Linked DNA regions of Homo sapiens: region 1 is linked to region 2. Evidence: fine-mapped expression QTL. Tissue or cell type: cerebellum. Region 2 holds a variant in brackets; the other region holds the start of a gene. All regions are shown on one strand. Distances are from middle to middle.

Region 1 (2,759 bases), 27 kb after region 2:
GGGTGGCAGGGAAGGAAGAAACCCAAATAGGGTAGTTGCTTTAATCACTGTTACCACTAATTTTCTGAGAGCAGCAAAGCGCGTCTAAGAACTCCAATAAATCTATACTAAATTTTATATGTCCCATACATATTTTCTGGGAAAAAGGGCCCTTGAGCTTTGAACACAATCTCAAAGGAAACAGTGACTAAAAAAGGTTAAGAACCTCTTGTTGAAGGGTTTGCTTTATTGAACGGAAGAAACAGTTCTCCCTCTCCCCTCCACGCTAGGTATAACCAGCCTTCCGGATGTGCCGCCTTTGGTATCACCCAAGATCTCGGGATGGGTACCCATCCCTGCCTCCACTGCCTGGTTTGCTGGTTACCCTGCTCTTTGGTTCTGTTTCTCCATGTGTGTTTCTGCAAGCTGCCTCAATGTCCCCCTTCCTCGGCAGTTGTCCTACTCTGTGTCCCTGAAATAAGAGCGGTTCCTCAGCGGCTGCCTCATTTGGGTGAGACCCACGTGACACTCATCACATTTGTCAACCTCCCCTTTTTCCTCTCTACTCTTTTGGGGCCACTGGCCTTTGTCCCGTGCCGGAGAGGTAGCCCCCCCATCCCCCGACTCTTTACCCTCTTCCTGGTTGGGTTTGGCAGATACTTTCACGCATGTCCCGTCATGTTCCTGTCCTACCATTCCCAGGTAGTGTGAAATTCTTTTCCTGGCCCACTCGAAAGATGTGAGAAAGAAATGGTGCCTGAAGTGCGCTCTCTGATCCCCCGAAAAGAATATTACACATAACTACTAAGCGCTTTGTGTTTGGGTCCATGATTCCGACATATGACGTGGAGAAGCATAGTGCCCTGCACCTGCCTTGACCATGGCCTCCTGAGAGTCCCCAGGGCCACCAAGCCCCCCATTCCAAGTGCTCTCCTTGAATGTGACTCGGCTCTTTCCACAATCCGCCCAGCCTGGGTTAGGGAATGGGAGCTCTCTACTATATTCTTCTCCACAATATTCTAAAACCTCCTCTCTGTCCTTCTAGAGAGAGCGCAAATGGGTAAGTTTTTTCCCCCTAAAACTTGCTTAAAATCAGCGCGTCGGGCCCCGGGGCGCCCGGGATGTGAGGGCGGGGAGGTGGTTGTCGGGGCGGTCCGCGCCCCCACGGCGAGGTGCACGGAGTTAGCTCGGCCCAGCAAGCGGCGGAGGGAGGCCAGCGAGCGGGGTCTGCGAGCGGAGGCCCGGGCGGCGGCGTCGTCCCCGGGGGCAGGCAGGCCGGCCGGGCCCGGGCCAGGGCGCTGCGCCGCGGCCTCCGCGCCTCCTCGGGGCGCCGCGCGGCCAGGCCGGCGGCGGCCCCCGGGGATGGCGGCGGCCGGGCTCCGCCAGCAGGTGGCCCTGGGGTCCCAGCGGCACCGCCCCCTCCGCCGGCGCCCCTCCTCCCGCGGGGGCGGTCAGCGCCCCGGCCGGCTCTGCACCCGCCGCCGCCCTCCCCGCAGCCCGCCCGCCGCGTCTTCGGGGCCGCCGCCGCCGCCGCCGCGACCGCAGGCTGAGCCCAGGCGGGCCGGCCGCCCCGAGCCGCCCCCCGCCTCCGCCGCCGCCGCCGCGCCCCGGCCCGGCCCGCTCCCAACGGAAAGTTGGGCTGCGGCGGGCGGCGTCTGGAACCCGCGGGCCGGCATGAGCGGGGGCCGCGGGGGCGCCTAGGGCACCGGGAGGCGGCGCCGCGCGGGGGCAACTTCGCCCGGGAGCCCACGCCGCCGGGCCCCGCGCCTGCAGCCCCGAGCCGGCTCGCGGTGGTTCCTCCCGTCCCGCGGCCTCCCCTCGCCGACTCCAGGCGCGGACCTTGGTCCCGGCGGCTCCGCCGCGGTGACACGAGCCCGCGCCGCCGCTGCCGCTGCCGCCGCTGCCGCTGCCGCCGCTGCCGCCGCCTCCTCAGCCCCCGCCGCCGCCTTCCCCGCACCATGGAGTTCTCCGAGAGGAAAAGAAGCAGGAAATCCCAGAGCTTCAAACTGGTGAGCCGAGGTAAGCGGCCGCCGGGGCGGCGGGGGCAGGCAGCGGGCGCCGCGCCCTCGGCCGCCCGCGGGGGTCCACGCTGGGGGGCGCGCCCTCCCGGAGCCCCCGGTCCTTCCCGGTCCCCCGGTGCCTCCGCCGGGCTGGCAGGCAGGGCCGCGGCCGCACACGCCGGGCGGCGGGGAAAGTTGTGCGGGGGGAGCAGGGATGTTATTTAACGTAAACAAGTCGGAGGGCAGCTCAGGAAATTAGCAAACAATGACACCGGGGGGCCCGAGCCCTCCTCGGGGCGCCTCCGGGGCAGGGCTGGGGCGGCCGCGGACCTGCCTGGCCATCAGGCCGAGCGTGGACCCTCGGACCTGAGATTTGCTGTTTTTGTTTTCTGGGGTCTTCCCCCTTCCCCCCGCCAAGAGAAGGAGGAAAAAGGATGACCGTTGTTGTTCTTTTTAAGAAGGAGAAAGAAGCTCACGCCGTGTCCAAGCCCAAGGCGGAATTGTTGACATCCAACATCTCTAGCTAGCTGATTTGGGTTGGAAAGGTGTTTTAGACTAGATCATATAGCAGTCAGATAAGCATCCTTTAAAAAAAAGAAAAAAGAAAAGAAAGAAAAGAAATCCATCTAGTTTCTGACGAATTAACAGGTGTACACCACACTCTAGGGTTTGTATTTTGTCAGGGAGGGGAAAGTGGAATACAGTCTTGTCTGTGTTCAGTTACTTGTTAAGAGTCTTTATCTTCCTGATTTGACTTTTTTTTTTAAAAAAATGATAACT
Region 2 (2,759 bases):
GGCTAACACGGTGAAACCCCGTCTCTACTAAAAATACAAAAAATTAGCCGGGTGTGGTGGCGGGCACTTGTAGTCCCAGCTACTTGGGAGGCTGAGGCAGGAAAATGGCATGAACCCAGGAGGCGGAGGTTGTGGTGAGCCGAGATCGCGCCGCTTCACTCCAGCCTGGGTGACAGAGCAAGACTCCGTCTCAAAAAAAAAAAAAAAAAAAAAGAACGAAACTCCATCTCGATAAATAAATAAAGATATATAAATATCTTTTGTATTTGTCCCCTCTCTCCAACTGCTGCTTTTTTTTCCAGTTATGATACCTTCCCTTTCACTTTCTACTTCTATGACTCACACAGTGATGTGATTTATGACAGCTCAGAGAGACTTCCAGTTTTTCATGGTAGATTAAACAGAAGCATTTTTATTTGCTCACTCCTGAAACCAAACAAAAATGATATTGAGTAATTAAAAAACACATAAACACAAAAAGAATGAATGGGGGGGAAATAACAGATAAAGATTATTAACAAAATAAAATAAATCAATAAAATAAAATTTAGAAAAGTGGAAAACAGATGATGGAGTGGTAACTTACTTAGCAGACAGGAGAAAGCCAAAAACCTACAGCTTTGTTAGCAAATTCTTTTGTGTATATTTCCTGCAGATGGATATTCTCCTGCACAGTCAAAACACTGCCATCAAAATCAGGAAGTTGACATTAATACGTTACTACTACTTAATCCTTTTACCCTATTTAAATTTCTAGTTGTCCCAATAATCTCTTTAATACAAGAGGAGCTAGTCCACAATTATACGTTGCATTTATTTGTCATATCTCTTTACTCTCCTTCCATCTGAAATCGTTCTTGACTCTTTCCTCGATTTTCATGAACTTGACAAGTCTGATGACTATAGAACAGTTATTTTGAGGAATATCCCACCATTTTGGTTTTTCCAGTGTTTTCTCATGACTAGATTTGGGTTGTGAATCATGGAAGTGATGCTGTGTTCCCATGGCATTCCATCAGGGGATTCTGATGTCTATTTGTCCCATTACCAGTGATATTGAGGTAGGAGGCAAAACTTGACTCCAGAGGCAGGGCTCAGATTCAGGACCAAATTGAGGACTAGCAAAAACAGGTTCCCAGGGGAAGCAGCTTTCCATAAGATACACCCATCCGTATGCCATATCAGTTTACCATTGCCATGGCAACACCTGGACATTACAAGGCCTTTCCATGGCAACGGCCTGATGACCTGGAAGTTACCACCCTCATCCTAGACATTTCTGCATAAACTGCCCCTTAATTTGTGTATAGTTAAAACAGGCATAAATATTAGTGCAGAACCACCTCCAAGCTGCTTCTCTTGGCACACTGCCTTTGGGGTAA[C/G]CCTGCTTCACAAGGAGCTGCACCTTTCCTGCTGCTGTATGCTGCCAAGTTGCTGTTTAACACCACCTGCTAACCCTTGAATTCTTTCCCAGGCAAAGCCAAGAACCCTTCTGGGCTAAGCCTCAATGTTGGGGCTTGCCTGTTCTATGTTAGTATTATGTTTGGTCATTTGATTAAGAAGGTGTTGGCCATGATTCTCCACTGTAAGTGACTGTTTTTCCCTCTGGAATTAATACTAATATTAGTTTTTGAAGAGGTAAGGTAAACCTATGTAAATATCTGTTCCTCATCTAACTTACAATTTATTCACATTGGTATACATTTCTTTATACCAAATGTGGACTCATGGGTTCCTGTTTTATTTGATGAGTTATAATTTGTTACGATTACTTTTTTTTTTTTTTTCTTTGAGAAGGAGTCTCGCTCTGTGTCACCCAGGTTGGAGTGCAGTGGTGCAATCTCAGCTCACTGCAATCTCCGCCTCCCGGGTTGAAGCGATTCTCCTGCCTCAGTCTCCTGAGTAGCTGGGACTACAGGCACACGCCACCACAAGTGGCTAATTTTTGTATTTTTGGTAGAGACAGGGTTTCACCATATTGGCCAAGCTGATCTCGACCTCCTGGCCTCAAATGATCTGCCTGCCTTGGCCTCTCAAAGTGCTGGGATTACAGGCATGAGCCACCGTGCTTGGCTATAATTTGTTATGATTACTACTAATTTTGATGTTGTTTGTCTCAGATTTGACCAGCGGGGAGCCCATTCCAACTGGATTCTATGCCCTTTAACAGAGCCCCATCATTATTTTGGGGACTTCCTTATTTTTTTGCACAAAACTTTCCAGGCTCATTTTGTGCATCCCCTGTCCCGGTTTGCAAATTATTAATTTCATCAAAAAGCCTCGGATATTTTTGTTTGTTTGTTTTTGGTGGAGAATGGTTTTCAGAAATCAAGATTGGGTCTTTAGGTGTGCTCAATAATATTGAGGTGTTGACATGTTCAAGTCTTGTCAGTGGGCAGAACTAGAAATTACATGTATGCGTATGTATATATCTTTCTATAAAGCCATGAATTCACACCAATTCCAGCTATTGGTTCACTCTTGCTTTCTGCTTTCCATATTTGTAATTCCCTTCTCTGACAATGAGAAAGCTGGTCTCTACTATCATTAATATTCTTTTTTATTTATTTAGGCAGGGTCTTGCTCTGTTGCACAGGCTGGAGTGCAGTGACATGATAATGGCTCACTGCAGCCTCAACCTCCCAGGCTCGGCGATCCTCCCACCTCAGTCTCCCTAGTAGCTGAGACTCCAGGTGCACACCATCAGAGCTGGCTAATTTTTTATTTTTTTGTAGAGATAGGGTTTCACGATGTGGCCC

Alleles and levels. Alleles are on the strand shown, and positions count from the first base shown. SD is a standard deviation of normalised expression in the study named.
With allele C in place of G in region 2, the expression in cerebellum of the gene that starts at base 1,457 in region 1 is lower (large effect, 0.91 SD a copy in GTEx).

Evidence for each region. PIP is the estimated chance that this variant, and not a neighbour inherited with it, causes the effect.
Region 1: BEND7 starts here. The variant in region 2 is fine-mapped to the expression of BEND7 in cerebellum (GTEx, PIP above 0.99). The same link has a PIP of 0.9 or more in cerebellar hemisphere and esophagus mucosa.

Annotation. Positions count from the first base shown.
Region 1 is chr10:13,527,712-13,530,470 of GRCh38, reverse strand. It overlaps BEND7 (BEN domain containing 7), which reads left to right and starts at 1,457. Exons shown (of 9, transcript NM_001369863.1): 1 at 1,457-1,998. The coding sequence starts at 1,938. It overlaps BEND7-DT (BEND7 divergent transcript), which reads right to left and starts at 1,867. Exons shown (of 2, transcript XR_930674.3): 1 at 1,819-1,867; 2 at 207-451.
Region 2 is chr10:13,554,766-13,557,524 of GRCh38, reverse strand. LOC105376422 (a long non-coding RNA gene) reads right to left here. Exons shown (of 3, transcript XR_930675.1): 3 at 355-426. Among named protein-coding and RNA genes, the nearest start is that of BEND7, 27 kb to the right of the region's middle. The variant C/G (reference allele first, on the strand shown) is at 1,383.